Linked DNA regions of Homo sapiens. The protein of the gene in region 1 interacts with the protein of each later gene in a pairwise test. Each region holds a gene or a part of one and is shown on either strand. Other genes may lie near its edges. The genes, in order: RWDD2B and EPB41.

What was found.
Region 2: the proteins of RWDD2B (region 1) and EPB41 interact in binary tests that used the Homo sapiens proteins (3 or more experiments, as listed by UniProt).

What each region holds. Positions count from the first base shown.
Region 1 is NC_000021.9:29,008,031-29,017,744, reverse strand, and holds part of RWDD2B (RWD domain-containing protein 2B), read left to right. Parts: exon of another isoform or gene 1-159; intron 160-8,052; exon of another isoform or gene 8,053-8,150; intron 8,151-9,123; coding exon 9,124-9,350; intron 9,351-9,437; coding exon 9,438-9,505; intron 9,506-9,621; coding exon 9,622-9,714.
Region 2 is NC_000001.11:28,986,336-28,996,049, forward strand, and holds part of EPB41 (protein 4.1), read left to right. Parts: intron 1-1,095; 5' UTR 1,096-1,102; coding exon 1,103-1,570; intron 1,571-3,020; exon of another isoform or gene 3,021-3,100; intron 3,101-6,994; coding exon 6,995-7,207; intron 7,208-9,714. UniProt on the Homo sapiens protein: Protein 4.1 is a major structural element of the erythrocyte membrane skeleton. It plays a key role in regulating membrane physical properties of mechanical stability and deformability by stabilizing spectrin-actin interaction. Recruits DLG1 to membranes.

The DNA.
Region 1 (9,714 bases):
GAAAGGCCTTTCCTGACAATGCTGTGTGCAGTCTCACCCCTGCTGCCTCATTGTTTCCCTTATCCTTGTTTTCTTTTTCAGGTTTCTTCATAGCAGTTATTCACTGGGTACAAAAATTCTTTTTTGTTTTTTTTTGAGACAGTCTTGCTCTGTTGCTCTGGCTGGAGTGCAGAGGTATGATCTTAGCTCACTGCAACCTCCGCCTCCCCAGTTCAAGCGATTCTCCTGCCTCAGCCTCCCTAGTAGCTGGGACTACAGGCGTGGGCGACCACACCTGGCTAATTTTTGTATTTTTAGTAGAGATGGGGTTTCATCATGTTGGCCAGGCTGGTCTCAAACTCCTGACCTTAGGTGATCCGCCCACCTCATCCTCCCAAAGTGCTGGGATTACAGGCGTGAGCCACCACCGCACCTGGGCTGGGCGTATAAATTTGTTTTTGATGTCATGGTATCCTCCCACCAGTAGAGTTGTTTTATTACTTTCATTCATTGTTATCTTAGTGCCAGTGCTTGAACGTAAGTGCTTGAGAAACATTTGTTGAAATGATGACCAATAATAATAATAGTAATAAGCAGCCGGACACGGTGGCTCATGCCTGTAATCCCAGCACTTTGGGAGCCCAGGGCGGGTGGATCATGACGGCAGGAGTTCGAGACCAGCCTGGCCAACGTGGTGAAACCCCGTCTCTACTAAAAAACCCAGAAAGCAGAGGTTGTAGTGAGCCGACTCTGCACTCTGGCCTGGGTGACAGAGCTAGACCCTGTCTCAAAAAAAAAGGTTTTTTTAATTAATAATAATAGTAGCAAGCACGCATATAAAATTTACTGTTGCCAGGCACTTTCCACAAATTCTCATCTAATCATCACAGCAACCCTCTCATCCCAGTTATGGAGTTGGGGAGACTAAAGCACAGATAAATTAAGCCACTTGCCTAAGGTCCTGCAGTTGGTAAGTGGCAGAGCCAGGAGTCGCACCTTGGCAATCTGGTAATAGAATCCAAAAACACTGGTAACAGAGCCACGCCAACAAAAAAACAAAGTAAACCATTTCCTCTAATAACCACCCAAGTAGTTGTTTTTTATGTTTCTCAACTCCAAAACAGACCAGCAAATATGTATATGGAATTCCAATAAGTCCAGGGATTTTAAGTATGTATGAGGATTTTGTTTAAAAAAAAAAAGGCCGGGAGCAGTGGCTCATGCCTGTAATCCCAGCACTCTGGGAGGCCAAGGCGGGTGAATCACCTGAGGTCGGGAGTTTGAGACTAGCCCAACTGACATGGTGTAACTCCATCTCTACTAAATACAAAAAATTAGCTGGGTGTGGTGGCGCATGCCTGTAATCCTAGCTACTTGGGAGGCTGAGGCAGGAGAATCGCTTGAACCTGGGAGGTGGAGATTGCAGTGAGCCGAGATTGCACCATTTCACTCCAGCCTGGGCAACAAGAGCGAAACTCCGTCTCAAAAAAATAAATAAATAAAAAATCGGAAAAAAAACAAAAGAAAACATTGCGATTAAAGGAGGGAGGAATATTTGCAGTTCCAACAGTTATTAGAAGAGGAAAACTTCAAATTAAACATGAATAGACATATTAATAAATATATGTTAATATATGTATAAATATTATCAAGGCTACCCACCATCTTTTATGATACTTTAAATGCTTATATTTAAACTACTTAAATTCAGGTAACTACATGGCAAAATAAGGAATCCTGCTCTGTTCTGTGGAGAGGAGGGCTAATGTCATTTGGCCTGGAAAAACATGTTCTGGAGTCAGACAGAATACTGAACACCCCTCTTGGAAATTCACAGTTTAAGACTCTGAGAAGTCACAAATAAGAATTGTGCCCATATAGTCTCTCGCCTAATTAGGATTGCTTTTGTCTAGGATAAATACCTAAACCATATGGGGCTGGGCATGGTGGCTCACGCCTGTAATCCCAGCACTTTGGAAGGCCAGGGTAGGTAGATCACCTGAGGTCAGGAGTTTGAGACCAGCCTGGCCAACATGATAAAACCCTTTCTCTACTAAAAATACAAAAAATTAGCTGGGCGTGGTGGCGAACACCTGTAATCCCAGCTATTCGGGAGGCTGAGGCAAGAGAATCACTTGAACCCAGGAGGCGGAGGTTGTGGTGAGCCAAGATTGTGCCATTGCACTCCAGCCTGGGCAACAAGAGCAAAACTCCATCTCAAAAAAAAAAAAAAAAAAGACTAGGTGTGGCGGCTCACACCTGTAATCACAGCACTTTGGGAGGCCAACGCGGGTGGATCACAAGGTCAGGATTTCGAGACCAGCCTGCCCAACATGGTGAAACCCCATCTCTACTAAAAATACAAAAATTAGCTGGGCGTAGTGGTGTGCGCCTGTAATCCCAGCTACGCAGGAGGCTGAGGCAGGAGAATTGCTTGAACCTGGGAGGTGGAGGTTGCAATAAGCCAAGATTGCACCATTGTACTCCAGCCTGGGTGACAAAGTGAGACTCCCATCTCAAAAAAAAAAAAAAAAAAAAAAACGCATCATAATCAAACTTCTGAAAACCAAAGACAATGAAAAATTCTTAAAATTAGTGACAAAAATGAACCTTATCTGTAAAGGAAAACAATTCAAATGAGAGTGATTTCTCATCAGTCACCAGAGAGGCTAGGTGAAGAGGCACAGCATTTTTCAATTGTTGAAAGTAAAAACCTGTTAAGCCAGAATACTGCATCCAGTGAAAATATTCTGCAGAAATGAAGGGGAAATCAAGACATTCTAAGATGAAGGAAATCTAGGAGATTTGTCACCAGCAGACCTATCCTAAAAGAATGGTTAAAATAGGTTCTCTAAACAGAAAAGAAATAATAAAAGAATTATTATTAAAGAAATATAATTTAGACCTATTTTATTTTACTTTATTTATTTTTATTTTTTTATTTTTAGAAGGAGTCTCGCTCTGCCGCCCAGGCTGGAGTGCAGTGGCTGTATCTCGGCTCACTGAAAGCTCTGCCTCCTGGGTTCACGCCATTCTCCTGCCTCAGCCTCCTGAGTAGCTGGGACTACAGGTGCCCGCCACCACGCCCGGCTAATTTTTTGTATTTTTAGTAGAGATGGGGTTTCACCATGTTAGCCAGGATGGTCTTGATCTCCTGACCTCATGATCTGCCTGCCTTGGCCTCCCAAAGTGCTGGGATTACAGGCGTGAGCCACTGCGCCAGGCCATTTAGACCTATTTTAGGACTGTTAAGACTGAGATGGTCTCTGCTGTGGTTTAATGTGTGCCCCAAAGTTCATGTGTTAGAAGCTTTATCCCAAAGCAATAGAGTTGAGTGGTGGGACCTTTCAGAGGTGATTAAGTGATATGCAGGGATATAACAAAAAATGTAACATTCCTGTCATCAGCATTTCAGAAGAAGAGAAAGAAGGCAGGGTTGAAAAAGTTCCCAAAGAACAGGGCCCTCACAAATGGATTAATGGTGTTACTGCAGGAGTGGGTTAGTTATTGTGGGAGTGGGTTCCTGATAAAAGCATGCATTTGGCCCCTTCATCTCTCTTGCACTTGCTCTCATTCTCTCTTGCCCTCTGCCTTCCGCCATGGGATGACTCAGTAAGAATGCCCTTGCAAAATGCAGGCACCATTCTCTTGGATTTCCCTGCTTCCAGAACAATAAGCCAAATAAATTTCTCTTCATCGTAAACTACCCAGTCTCAGGTAGTCTGTTATCGTAACAGAAAATGAACTAATATAACATCCAATAGAAATATACAGATATAGTTAAATTTACAAATATGGGGCTCGAGAATTTGGAACATCCTAAGAATTTGAGAATTGTGAACATTTAATATTCAGTAATACTTGGTACCATGAGACAATAGAGAAGATAAAGATGTCCTCAACCAAACCTTAAGGGATGCTAACATTTTAAAGATCTTGCTTGGCAGTAGTATGGTATGGCATATAAATTATACCTCATTAAAGCTATTAAAAAAACTACTGAAGGGAAAATTCTACGTTATAAACATATCGTCTTTTTCTGTATTAATCTTTAATTTCTTTTTTTTTTTTTTTTTTGAGACGGAGTCTCACTCTGTCGCCCAGGCTGGAGTGCAGTGGCGCGATCTCGGCTCACTGCAAGCTCCGCCTCCCGAGTTCACGCCATTCTCCTGCCTCAGCCTCCCGAGTAGCTGGGACTACAGGCGCCGGCCACCACGCCCGGCTAATTTTTTGTGTTTTTAGTAGAGGTGGGGTTTCACTGTGTTAGCCAGGATGGTCTGGATCTCCTGACCTCATGATCCGCCCGCCTCTGCCTCCCAAAGTGTTGGGATTACAGGCGTGAGCTACCGCGCCAGGCCTAATCTTTAATTTCAATGCAATTACCATTTTTTCTTGTTTTCAAAACTTAACAAAATTATTCTAATGTTTATATGTGAGAAAAGCCAGGAAATACCAAAAAAGAATTCTAGAAAAGAAGAGTGATGGCTATGAAGAGACAGAGTAGGAGCAATTTACTAACCCATCATAGTGATTTCAAGAGTTGAGTATTAGTTAGCTGGGTATGGTGGTAGCATGACTGTAGTCCCAGATACTTGGGAGGCTGAGACAGGAGGATTGCTTGAGCCTAGGAGTTCGAGGCTGCAACGAGCTATAATCGCACCACTGCACTCCAGCCTGGGTGACAGAGTGAGACTCTGTCTCAAAAAAAAAAAAAAAAAGAGTATTAGGACATGATATTATAGACAGATCAATATAACAAAATGGAGAATCCAGAAAAAGACTCAAATACATATAGGCACTTAACATATGTTGAAAGAAACATTTCAAATTTATTATAAGATGTACTGGTAAAAATGGCTAGTTAACTGGAAAAAAAAAATAAGCTGGAAACTTCCGTCACCTTTTAAAGTGAAGTATATCCCAGATGGATCAAATATTTAAATGCAGAAATTGAAAATGTATTCCAAATAGAAAATAGAAGACTTTTTTTTTTTTAATTGATCATTCTTGGGTGTTTCTCGCAGAGGGGGATTGGGCATGGTCACAGGACAATAGTGGAGGGAAGGTCAGCAGATAAACAAGTGAACAAAGGTCTCTGGTTTTCCTAGGCAGAGGACCCTGCGGCCTTCCGCAGTGTTTGTGTCCCTGGGTACTTGAGATTAGGGAGTGGTGATGACTCTTAAGGAGCATGCTGCCTTCAAGCATCTGTTTAACAAAGCACATCTTGCACCGCCCTTAATCCATTCAACCCTGAGTGGATACAGCACATGTTTCAGAGAGCACAGGGTTGGGGGTAAGGTCACAGATCTACAGGATCCCAAGGCAGAAGAATTTTTCTTAGTACAGAACAAAATGAAAAGTCTCCCATGTCTACCTCTTTCTACACAGACACAGCAACCATCCGATTTCTCAATCTTTTCCCCACCTTTCCCCCCTTTCTATTCCACAAAACCGCCATTGTCATCATGGCCCGTTCTCAGTGAGCTGTTGGGTACACCACCCAGACCGGGTGGTGGCCGGGCAGAGGGGCTCCTCACTTCCCAGTAGGGGCGGCCGGGCAGAGGCGCCCCTCACCTCCCGGGGGGGGGCTGACCACCCCCACCTCCCTCCCGGACGGGGCGGCTGGCCGGGCGGGGGGCTGACCCCCCAACCTCCCTCCCGGACGGGGCGGCTGGCCGGGCAGAGGGGCTCCTCACTTCCCAGTAGGGGCGGCCGGGCAGAGGCGCCCCTCACCTCCCGGACAGGGCGGCTGGCCGGGCGGGGGGCTGACCCCCCCACCTCCCTCCCGGACGGCGCGGCTGGCCGGGTCGGGGGCTGACCCCCCCACCTCCCTCCCGGATGGGGCGGCTGGCCAGGCGGGGGGCTGACCCCCCAACCTCCCTCCCGGACGGGGCGGCTGGCCGGGCAGAGGGGCTCCTCACTTCCCAGTAGGGGCGGCCGGGCAGAGGCGCCCCTCACCTCCCAGACGGGGCGGCTGGCCGGGCGGGGGGCTGACCCCCCCACCTCCCTCCCGGACGGGGCGGCTGGCCGGGCAGAGGGGCTCCTCACTTCCCAGTAGGGGCGGCCGGGCAGAGGCGCCCCTCACCTCCCGGACGGGGCGGCTGGCCGGGCGGGGGGCTGACCCCCCCACCTCCCTCCCGGACGGGGCGGCTGGCCGGGTGGGGGGCTGACCCCCCCCACCTCCCTCCCGGAAGGGGCGGCTGGCCGGGCGGGGGGCTGACCCCCCCCCACCTCCCTTCCGGACGAGGTGGCTGCCGGGTAGAGACGCTCCTCACTTCCCAGACGGGGTGGCTGCTGGGCGGAGGGGCTCCTCACTTCTCAGACCCAGCGGCTGCCGGGCGGAGGGGCTCCTCACTTCTCAGACGGGGTGGTTGCCAGGCAGAGGGTCTCCTCACTTCTCAGACCGGGTGGCCGGGCAGAGACGCTCCTCGCATCCCGGACGGGGCGGCAGGGCAGAGGTGCTCCCCACATCTCAGACGATGGGCGGCCGGGCAGAGACGCTCCTCACTTCCCACATGGGATGGCGGCTGGGAAGAGGCGCTCCTCACTTCCTAGATGGCAGGGCGGCTGGGCAGAGACGCTCCTCACTTTCCAGACTAGGCAGCCAGGCAGAGGGGCTCCTCACATCCCAGACGATGGGTGGCCGGGCAGAGACGCTCCTCACTTCCCAGACGGGGTGGCGGCCGGGCAGAGGCTGCAATCTCGGCACTTTGGGAGGCCAAGGCAGGCTGCTGGGAGGTGGAGGTTGTAGCGAGCCGAGATCACGCCACTGCACTCCAGCCTGGGCACCATTGAGCACTGAGTGAACCAGACTCCGTCTGCAATCCCCGCATCTCGGGAGGCCGAGGCTGGCGGATCACTCGCGGTTAGGAGCTGGAGACCAGCCCGGCCAACACAGCGAAACCCCGTCTCCACCAAAAAAATACGAAAACCAGTCAGGGGTGGCGGCGCGCGCCTGCAATCGCAGGCACTCGGCAGGCTGAGGCAGGAGAATCAGGCAGGGAGGTTGCAGTGAGCCGAGATGGCAGCAGTACCGTCCAGCTTCGGCTCGGAATCAGAGGGAGACCGTGGAAAGAGAGGGAGAGGGAGACCATGGGGAGACGGGAGAGGGAGAGGGAGAGGGTTTTTTTTGGTTTTTTTTTTTTATTTTTATTTTTTGAGACGGAGTTTCACTCTTTTTGCCCAGGCTGGAGTGCAATGGCACGATCTCAACTCACTGCAACCTCTGACTCCCAGGTTCCAGTGATTCTGTCTCAGCCTCCCAAGTAGCTGGGACTTCAGGCACGCACCAACACACCCGGGTAATTTTGTTGTATTTTTTAGTAGAGACAGGGTTTCGTTATGTTACCCAGGCTGATCTAAAACTCCTGGACTCAAGCTATCCACCCTCCTTGGCCTCCCCAAGTGGTGGGATTACAGGTGTGAGCCACCGTGCTAGGCCAAAAGGAACTATGTATTAAGAATTTTCTTTTAAAGAAAAGAAGCAGGGGACTGAGTACAATTGTAAATTTCTGTTCTGTATGGCAACTTTCTGGAAAGTAACTTGGCAATATCTATCAAAATTTAAAATGTACATGTTGATACAACAATCCACCTCTGTAAGTTTATTATTGAATACACAGTATTCAGTTTACCATACTATATATATAAAAAGACCTTGCATTATAGGATTGTTCATATTAGTAAAAATGTGGAAACAACCCAAGTGTCCATCAATAGGTAAAGAATTAAATAAGTTATGGCATATCTACATGATTCAGTATAACAGCCGACAGTTACAAAGAATGAGGTAGATCACTATATGTTGACAGTGAATAGATCTACAAAATATATTTGGTGGGGAGGGAGATAGGAAATAGGAGGAAAAAGTATATATTATCCCCTTTGGATTTAAATATGTATACTGTATATATCTCACATTGTACATATTTATACATTATACCAGCATTTTTCACATATATATATGTATAATGCTTAAGATGTTTTAATGTTAACAGGGGTGACTTAAGCTACAGGACAATTAACACTTATTTTCTCTTTATGTTCCTCTGCTTCTTAAAAACTAATAAATAGGCCGGGCGCAGTGGCTCACACCTGTAATCCCAGCACTTTGGGAGGCCGAGGCGGGCGGATCATGAGGTCAGGAGATCAAGACCATCCTGGCTAACACGGTGAAACCCCATCTCTACTAAAAATACAAAAAATTAACCGGGTGTGGTGTTGGGCGCCTGTAGTCCCAGCTATTTGGGAGGCTGAGGCAGGAGAATGGCGTGAACGCGCCGAGGTGGAGCTTGCAGTGAACCAAGATTGCGCCACTGCACTACAGCCTGGGTGACAGAGCGAGACTCCGTTTCAAAAAAAAAAAAAAAAAAACTAATAAATGCCATGCACAGTGGCTCATACCTGTAATGCTAGCACTTTGGGAGGCCAAGGCAGGAGGATTGCTTGAGCCCAGGAGGTCAAGACCAGTCTGGACAACATAGCAAGACCTTGTTTCTACAAATAAAAAATGAAGCCGGGCGTGGCAGTGCATACCTGTGGTCCTAGCTACTCAGAAGTCTGAGGTGGGAGGATTGCTTGGGCGTGGGAGGTTGAGGTTGCAGTGAGCGGGGATCATGCCACTGCACTCCAGCTGTGGTGACAGAGCTAGACCCTGTCTCAAAAAAACCTAATAAACATTAATATTTACTTAAAAAGAAGAAATTGACCATCCACGTAACCAAACTCTCTGACTGACTTTGTTCATTCTAGGTTTCCAGTGTAACCAGTCATATCCTCTCTTCTGGCTACATTATTGATACAGCTTTTTGACTACATAATTGGTTTACTTTGATGAAATTGCCCATTATGGTAGCTCAAGTTGTCCACTCAACTATCTAGACACAGAAGAATGTGGTGTCTACTTACTATTAAGAGTTTTTTTGTGTTTGTTTTTTTATAGATGGTCTCAGTATGTTGCTCAGGCTGGTCTTAGCATAGGACTTAGCATATTATATCTGAAAGTAGAGTAATAGGGAAAGAGACTAATTAAATTGTACAATTTATGAAGAAACCAAGTACAATTTTAGTAAGTACACATGTTGATGTATTCATTTCTTCCAAGATTGCATATGTAAATTGTCTCTCTTATCTTTACCTCCTTAGAAACTTACACATGTCCAAAAATGATTGAGATGGAGCAGGCGGAGGCCCAGCTTGCTGAGTTAGACCTGCTAGCCAGTATGTTCCCTGGTGAGAATGAGCTCATAGTGAATGACCAGCTGGCTGTAGCAGAACTGAAAGATTGTATTGAAAAGAAGACAATGGAGGGGCGATCTTCAAAAGTCTACTTTACTATCAATATGAACCTGGATGTATCTGACGAAAAAATGGTAATTCAGTTTTGCTTTTAGAGGGATTGAAACATGTTGAGACTTAAAACATTGGTTAGTGCACTTTTTCTTCTTCTCTTTAATCAGGCGATGTTTTCTCTGGCCTGTATTCTTCCCTTTAAATACCCGGCAGTTCTGCCTGAAATTACTGTCAGGTACGTTACAGAAGCTCTGGCCAACTTTGGAGGTCAAAATTAATCTGAGAATAAAAGCAATTCTCGAATTTGTTTTCTGTTCCAAGACAATATTTTTCTTGTATCTTTTCTATTAGATCAGTATTATTGAGTAGATCCCAGCAGACTCAGCTGAACACAGATCTGACTGCATTCCTGCAAAAACATTGTCATGGAGATGTTTGTATACT
Region 2 (9,714 bases), on another chromosome or scaffold:
CACGTGTGTTGGTTATTCTTTAGTAAAGTAGACGTGACAATGCTCGTTGGCTGTTATTGTGAAGCTTGACTTATAATACTGGGATTTTGAGATCAAGAGGCTAGAAGCCAAGATGTTTGAAATATGTAAGGTCAGCTGCCTGCTCTTTCCTCCTCCCCTACGAGTGAATCAACACTTGCTTTATAAGTTTTTCTTCTCTATCTCCTTTCTCTATTGTTAGTTTCACTTCCTACTCTTAAAAATTCTGAGCTTTCAAAATCATGTTTATCAGGAGAAAAAAGAGACTGAAAGAGCTTAAAATGGGATACCTCTGGCCGGGTGCGGTAGTTCACGCCTGTAATCCCAGCTCTTAGGGAGGCAGAGGCGGGAGGATAGCTTGAGCCCAGGAGTTCGAGACCTGCCTGGGCAATATAGCAAGACCCCATTCTCCACAAAAAGGAAAAAAAAAAGGGATACCTCTGAAAGAGGTTGTAATTTGGAATTGTAACATGAAAACCTAAGGAAATTTTTTGCAGTATTTCAACTGTATATTTGTCGTTGCTGTTATCCAGTCTTACAACAAACTATCAGAATTTTACTTTTGCAATTTTAATAGAGAAGTCTCTGCATCCTAAGAAATGTAAAGAAAAAGAACAATAAAGACTGGGGGAACTTTTAAATTTCATCGTCTCTTGGTGTGTGGAGAATTTTGCAGGGAATAATTCCTGCAAATCCTACACCTTCAGATTGATACCCTCAAAGGACACTAAACCACAGTCCTTTTTTAAGGAAGGATAAAACTGTATTTACTGTATACAGTTCTAGGCATTGGATTTAATATGTGATGTATTTCACTAAGGTGGCCTCCGTGGGTACTATTTTAAGCTACTCTCTCTGTGTGCATATCTTTAGTGACTCAAGGCATTAATATTTTATTCAGGATGTGTAGATAAGATATTTTTGTAATTTAATGGAAAGTCTCATGTTTAATGGGTTTGAATTCTGTTTGTTGGCAATTAAATACCTAAGTATATTAATTTTTTAGGGTTTAGGGTTTTGCCAACAGTAATGTGTTTTGCTTATAAGAGCCCCCCTTTTCTATCTTCTTTTTAATAGCAACATCATGACAACAGAGAAGAGTTTAGTGACTGAGGCCGAAAATTCACAGCACCAACAGAAGGAAGAGGGTGAGGAAGCCATAAACTCAGGCCAACAAGAACCTCAGCAGGAGGAATCTTGTCAAACAGCAGCTGAAGGAGATAATTGGTGTGAACAGAAGCTGAAAGCTTCTAATGGAGACACTCCTACACATGAAGACTTGACCAAGAACAAGGAGCGGACATCAGAAAGCAGAGGACTTTCACGACTATTCTCCTCGTTTCTCAAAAGGCCCAAATCTCAGGTGTCCGAGGAAGAAGGCAAAGAAGTAGAGTCAGATAAAGAAAAAGGTGAAGGAGGTCAGAAAGAGATAGAATTTGGAACCAGTCTTGATGAAGAGATCATTTTAAAGGCCCCAATTGCAGCTCCTGAACCGGAACTCAAAACAGACCCATCTTTGGATCTTCATTCATTAAGCAGTGCAGAAACACAGGTAAGGATGTGTGGATATGGGAGGTGGGCAAAGGAAGGCAGGTTATACACTTTATTTTTCATTTAAGAGTATTTGGGCTGGGCGCGGTGGCTCATGCCTGTAATTCCACCACTTTGGGAGGCCGAGGCAGGCGGATCAACTGAGGTCAGGAGTTCGAGACCAGCCTGGCCAACATGGCCAAACCCTGTCTCTACTAAAAGTACAAAAATTAGCCGGGCCTGATGGCGGGTGCCTGTAATCCCAGCTACTCAGGAGGCTGAGACAGGAGAAGTTGAACTCGGGAGGCGGAGGCTGCAGTGAGCTGAGATCGTGCCACTGCATTCCAGCCTAGGCAACAAGGATGAGATTCCGTCTCAACAACGGGGGGATAAAAAAAGTACTTGGTTTTATTTCTTACTAGCTAGTTGACTTAGGCATTGATAGTGATAAGTAGCATCATAAAGCTTTATAGTTTCTACTCTATTTTTTTTTTGAGACTGAGTCTTGCTCTGTCACCCAGGCTGGAGTGCAGTGGTGTGATCTCGGCCCACTGCAACCTCCCCGTCCTGGGTTCAAGCTATTCTTCTGCCTCAGCCTCCCGAGTAGCTGGGATTACAGGCGCTGGCCACCATGCCCAGCTAATTTTTGTATTTTTAGTAGAGACAGCGTTTTGCTGTGTTGGCCAGGCTGGTCACAAACTCTTGACCTCAGGTAATCTGTCCACCTCAGCCTCCCAAAGTGCTGGGACTACAGACGTGAGCCACCATGCCCGGCTTATAGTTTCTACTCTAAAAAAATTAATGTAGTCATTGGAAACTTACTTTTTAAACAGTTACTTACACTTTATATGTATTAAAGGGTCTTGCTATTTTGCCCAGGCTAATCTCAAACTCCTGGGCTCAAGTGATCCTCCCACCTCAGCCTCCTGAGCAGCTGGCATTACAGGTGTGTACCACCATGCCTGTCCATTTACTGTTTATAAATCAAAGAATAGTAGAGAAAAAAAAAGTATCAAATCAATGTGTTCAGCCCATATATCATTTTATTATAATAATGGAACAAATTGAAGATTTCTCATGAGAGAGGAAAAGAAAGATGAGATGGTTTAGAGTTCATTTTTGTGGAATTATTAGGAACAGGACGGTTATCAGCAGATGTGGTTCTTTTACGTAAATCTTCCTAAAAGCTGTGTGATGAATTCAAGCCCTTTGAAGGTATGTGATAGATTCAAGTCATGTCTACCTTATTTTGATCATCTTCTTTAACTAGAGCATATTGCCACAGAGTGTAAGATACAGATGAGGAAGTCTAGCTCTTTCTATCACCTGTGTAATGTATATTAGTCTGGGGCCTTAATTGTGACATAGTGTTGTTAAACTAAACACGAGTTGTGAGTTTATTTGTCCCAAAAAATGGGAAAACATTAGTACTGTAACTCAGACTATTTTCTGAGAATGTCATTTATTTTCAGCCTCACCATTACAATTAAGAATTATTTTCAGAGTCTTCTTATTTCTGAAGCATGTGAATATTATCTGCATCGTTAAAAGTGTAAGTCCTTCTAGAACTCTGACAGTGTTGGGGGGAAAAAAGTAAAAGTCCTACATGTTTCTATTATAGGTCTGAGATTTGGACTCCATAGTTTTATTAGAGTCTTATTAGAATATTACATGTATTTCTAGAACTATTACTTGTATATTCAAAGTGCTGAGGGTAAAATTTAGGATAAAATTATAATTGCACACTTGCTGTTAGTGAAACAAGGTTGAAAACAAGATTTACTATGTTCTGTAATAGTTAAGATGCAAGCTATAGAATCCGACTAGAGGGTTCAAATCGAAGAAAAGTGACACTTTTCACTTTATCAGTTTCCTCCTCTGTACAATGGGGATAATAATATCCACCTCATTTGGGATTGAAAGGATTAAAAGAGTGAAACCGGTAAAAGCTCTTAAAACATTGCCTGGCATTTAATAAATACTCAATGAATGTTAGCTAGTAAATAAACACAAACAGTAAAGGCAAAGAAACCATTCATATCTTAATAACATTTTATTTTAGGAATACCAAAAGAATTAAATTACATTATCGGCCGGGCGCAGTGGCTCACACCTGTAATCCTAGCACTCTAGGAGGCTGAGGCAGGCGAATCACAAGGTCAGGAGTTTGAGACCATCCTGGCCAACATGGTGAAACCCTGTCTCTACAAAAAATACAAAAAATTAGCTGGGCGTGGTGGCGGGCACCTGTAGTCCCAGCTACTCGGAAGGCGAGGCAGGAAAATTTGCTGAGAGCCGAGATCACGCCACTGCACTCCAGCCTGGGTGACAGTGCGAGATTCCATCTCAAAAAAAAAAAAAAAAAATTACATTATCTTTCAGGAAGCCTGGTACTTTCAAGAGTTTTTCAAATTTCCTTCCTTCCTTCCTTCCTTCCTTCCTTCCTTCCTTCCCTCCCTCCCTCCCTCCCTCCCTTCCTCTCTTCCTCTGCCTCCCTCCTTTCCCCTCCCTCCCTCCTTCCCCCTCTTTATTTATTTTCTTTTTTTCTTTCTTTCTTGACAGGGTCTCTCTCTGTCACCCAGACTAGAATACAGTGGTGTGATCATGGCTCACTACAGCCTCAACCTCCCGGGCTCAAGCTATCCTCCCATCTCAGTCTCCTGAGTAGTTGGGACTACAGGTGCATGCCACATGCCCAGCTAATTTTTAAATTTTTTGGTAGAGACGGTCTTGCTTTGTTGCCTAGGCTGGTCTTGAACTCCTGAACTCGAGCAATCCTTCTGCCTCAGCCTTCCAGAATGCTGGGATTACAGGCATGACCACTGTGCCTGGCCTCAAGGGGTTTTTAACTGCTTTTTTCTCCTTCAGCTTTATATAGGGGAAAATCCATATCTTGTTTTAGTTAACATTTGAATCAGAACTTGTCTGCATTGTCTAAAGTTCATAGATTCGTACTCAAGTTGACACAGATGATGGACAGTTAATTTTAGATTTAACTAAAATCTCATTCATTAAGATTTAATTCCGAATTGAAATAAATTGTCCGTAGGTTATTTGTCTTCATGTGGAGAAAAAGAAACGATATTGTTAGTAAAATTTCAAGGAGATATTATTTAAAAGAACAAACTATTTTAGGCCTTTTGGAAACTAATATTTATAGTCAAAACCTTGTGGATCAGAGTCGTCTGGATAAAGGTTTATTTGCCTAACCATGTTTCTGTATATGTAATAGGATTTTATTTAAATGGTTCTTTTTTATCCAGAATTTTTTAAAAAGCGTGTTTGCTTTATATTATAAATATATAAATATATATTTATATTACATTTAAGTGTATAATATATATAAATATAGGATTGTACCAGTCTTCATCCAGAGTAGCTTGGATTTTTTGGAAGCCTATGTAAATTTTTAATGTTTGTTTATTCATTCAACAAATATTTATTGAAAACCTACCATGTGTGCCAGGCCCTAGGCTGGATATACCTTGGTAAATAAAAACTGCAATATGGTGAAGAGGTTTAAAATCATGGATTTTGGGGCTGAGTGTGGTGGCTCATGCCTGTAAATCCAGCACTCTGGGAGACTGAGGCAGGAGGATCACTAGAGCCCCGGAGTTCGAGACCAACCTGGGCAACATGGAGAAACACCATCTCTACAAAAAAGTAAAAAACTAGCTAGGCATGGTGGCTCTCCTGTAGTCCCAGCTACTTGGGATGTTGAGGTGGGAGGATCACTTGAGTCTGAGAGGTCGAGGCTGCATTGAGCCATGATTATGTCACTGCACTCCAGCCTGGGTGATAGAGTGAGACTCTTGTCTCAAAAAAAAAAAAAAAAAGCAAAAAAAACAAATCGTGGATTCTGAAGCCAGACTGGTATGTGACTTATTAATTGTATGATCCTAGGCAAGTTACTTAATTTCTCTGGCCTGTTTTACAACCCTGCAGGCCAGGTACTATTATCCTCCCTCTATCAAGTGGGGATATAATAATACTACGTGCCTCGCAGGGTAGTTATGAGGATTGAGTTAGTTCACATAAGTAATTTTCTTAGAATAGTGACTGGCCCATTGTAATTGTTGTATAAATGTTTGGTATTATTATTATTATAAAACAGACATGATTTCTACCCTTGTGGACTTTAATAGAGAAGACAAAAAAGTAGCAAATAAAAATAATTATTTATTGTAATAAGTTATAAAGCCACCAGAGTACTGATATGAAAGACAGTAGAGCGGGCATAGATAGATAGGATAGCCAGTGAAGAGACTTCCTGAGGTTGCAGTGAGAGGGTCATGAAAGATCGGAAGGAGTCTTTTAGATTACTTCCAGTATTTAATGCAGGAGTCAAATAATTAATTTCTTTTTCCTAATTGTCAACCATGCATTCTTTTTTTCTTTTAATTGTTTTCCAGCTGTTACACAAGGAAGTAACATATTCTTTTAAAAGAAAATAATTAGTCGGGTTTAGATAAAAATATGTCGGTAGTTTTGTTGTGTTGAAAGTAAAAGTAAAAATGTATGCCGGCCAGGCACGGTTGCTCACGCCTGTAATCCCAACACTTTGGGAGGCCGAGGCGGGCAGATCATGAGGTCAGGAGATCAAAACCATCCTGGCTAACGTGGTGAAACCCCATCTCTACTAAAAGTACAAAAAAATTAGCTGGGCGTGGTGGCGGGCGCCTGTAGTCCCAGCTATTCAGGAGGCCCAGGCAGGAGAATCGCTTGAACCCTGGAGGCGGAGCTTGGAGTAAGCCGAGATCGCGCCACTGCACTCCAGCCTGGGCTACAGAGTGAGACTCCGTCTCAAAAAAAAATGTATACCAAAAATGTTATCCTACTTATCGGTATTATTTGGGGATAATTTAAGATTGCACCAGGAAACTCTTCCTTCATTGACTCTTCTTTGCATTTAACATGATTAATATTGGGTAGAAAGGTGTTAGCTGGTAGTTAAAATTTTTAGCCTACTACATGTTTGCTTAATGATGTGAAATTGGTCCCAAGCATTTCTCTTAGAATTAAAATTAATTTAAAATTTAGAATATGTAACAAGTCACATCTTATTTTGCAGTTTGTAAGGCTACATTGCTAAAATTGAGGAGCATGGGCAGAGACAATAACGTTTTTGTTAAACTTTAATAATACCGTGTAATGGCTTGGTCAGGAAGAATATATAATGCTGAGAGCAATGGATTGGTATCCTCCGGTTTACCTGAGACCTTCATTTATTGATTTGATGGGATTCTACCTGAGAAGTTTTAATAACAAAGTCTTTAGGGCATTTGGGGGATCATACTATTTTTTATAGAAAAATATTTAATATTAATGTCACCTATATTTGTTTTAGTTCATGCTTTTATTGGTAAGATTATTATAGGTAAAAGCATATACAGCATGTTTTGTGAAATGTGTTTATTACTGACTTGGCGATGTCATGGATATGTAGCCTGCTCAGGAAGAACTCAGAGAAGATCCAGATTTTGAAATTAAGGAAGGAGAAGGACTTGAAGAGTGCTCCAAAATAGAAGTAAAAGAAGAAAGCCCTCAATCAAAAGCAGAAACAGAATTAAAAGCTTCCCAAAAACCAATCAGAAAACACAGGAACATGCACTGCAAGGTTTCTTTGTTGGATGACACAGTTTATGAATGTGTTGTGGAGGTGAGTATGTTTTCATTTCCAACAATCAGAACTCTTACAGGTGGTTTCATCTAGAGTTGCGTAAGTGGTGATTTTGCCCACGATAAGACTCACTGTAGTGATTATTTCTTTTTTCTTTTTTTTTTTTTTTTTGAGACAGAGTTTTGCTCTGTCACCCAGGCTGGAGTGCAGTGGCATGATCTTGGCTCACTGTAGCCCCCAACTCCCATGTTCAAGTGATTCTCCTGTCTCAGCCTCCCGAGTAGCTGGGATTACAGCCATGTGCCACCATGCCAGGCTAATTTTTTGTATTTTTAGTAGAGACAGATTTCACCATATTGGTCAGGCTGGTCTTGAAGTCCGGGCCTCAAGTGATCTGCCCACCTCGGCCTCCCAAATTGCTGGGATTACAGGCATGAGCCACTGCGCCCGGCCTTTAATGATTATTTCTGTAGATGGAAGTATTAATGGTGATTTTCTGGAGGTGGGATTATGGGAAGATGATGAGTAAGTCTTTAAGTCCAGTAAATGCCATTTCTTAAAATTTTCTGTTTTCTGAAAGAATAAGTGATTGAATCAGGATTGAAGAAAAATATCAGAGTTATTCAGTTACTCTTTTTGCTCCTTCAGGACAAGTTGACAATTTTTTTTTTGTTTGTTTGTTTTTTGAGACAGAGTCTCTCTCTGTCGTCCAGGCTGGAGTGCAGTGGTACAATCTCGGCTCACTGCAAGCTCTGCCTCCTGGGTTCACGCCATTCTCCTGCCTCAGCCTCCAGAGTAGCTGGGACTACAGGCACCCGCCACCACGCCTGGCTAGTTTTTTGTGTTTTAAGTAGAGACGGGGTTTCACCGTGTTAGCCAGGCTGGTCTCGATCTCCTGACCTCGTGATCTGCCCGCCTCGGCCTCCCAAAGTGCTGGGTTTACAGGCTTGAGCCACCGCGCCCGGCCAGAGCAAGTTGAAATTTTAAAAAAATCTACTAACTATATATTTTTCAAACTGGAACAGTAGTTGTTTATTATGATATGCTTGATATATAAGCAATTGCAATTGTTACTAGTAACAGCTTTTATTGACAAAGTGTGTAATTCACATATATGTGGAACAAACTATTTTATTTATTTATTTATTTATTTATTTATTTATTTATTTATTTGAGACAGGGTCTTGCTCTGTTGCCCAGGTTGAAGTGCAGTGGCGCAGTGACAGCTCACTGCAGCCTCAACCTCCTGGGCTCAGGTGATCCTCCCACCTCAGCCTCCTGAGTAGCTGGGACTACAGGCACATACCATCACACCTGGCTAATTTTTTATATTTTTTGTAGAGACAGGTTCTCACCATGTTGCCCAGGTTACTCTTGAGCTCCCCGGCTCAAGCGATCTGCCTGCCTCAGCCTCCCAAAGTACTAAGATTATAGGCATGAGTCACCGCACCCAGCCTTATTTCTTAATCACATTATTTATTTGCAAATGTAAATATGTTCAATCACAAATCATCTAAAATATTATGCTATATTTACTAATAGGTATTCTCTAAGTTTAAAAAGGAAATCAAGAAAGATGTAATTGTACTTTGAAACAGGTACTATACACCTAACTAGAGCCTTAGGGTCTGCTTTTTCTGCTTCTTGCACTAACTAATTTAGAGATGGGGAAAGCTATTTTACACCTATTCTTCCCATTCAGACCAAGATCCAGATATGGATCTCTTATATATGAAGCCCTTGGGGACAGATGTGTCATAGAATTCAGAATATTTTGAGGCCGGGCACGGTGGCTCATGCCTGTAATCCCAGCACTTTGGGAGGCCGAGGCAGGTGGATCACGAGGTCAAGAAATCGAGACCATACTGACCAACATGGTGAAACCCCGTCTCTACTAAAAATACAAAAATTAGCTGGGTGTGGTGGCACGCACCTGTAGTCCCAGCTGCTTGGGAGGCTGAGGCAGGAGAATCGCTTGAACCCAGGAGGTAGAGGTTGCAGTGAGCTGAGATCACACCACTGCACTCCAGCCTGGCGACAGAGTGAGACTCCGTCTCAAAACAAAACAAAATAAAAACTAGAATTCAGAATATTTTGGAGTTTAGCAAGGGAATAAGTACATATTCTGCATATTTTATAATAAACCCAGCAGTGTCTGTAGCAGCACCCACATGATCAGACATAGTATTTCTATGGTAAAAGATATGAAGATTCATTCTGAGGTGGATAAATTAAGATTATAAATAGTCTCTTTACAGTTCAAGTCAAAATTTGCCATTTGGATTTTAGAATTATGAATAAGGGATTAGGGAAAATACATGAAGCATTTTCAAATCATCTTCTGTCATTTAGAATGAAAACATGGGAGAAAAAAAGAAAATTATTTGATATGGATGAGTTAAGACTGACAATGAATGAACATTTATGTGAATTATTAATAGTCATTAAAAATAACTCATCTCATTGAGAGGAGGACATGTCATATATGTTTGCCCAAAAAATGATTCTAATTTTTTGAAGTATTTTCATATATATTTCTCAGAAGA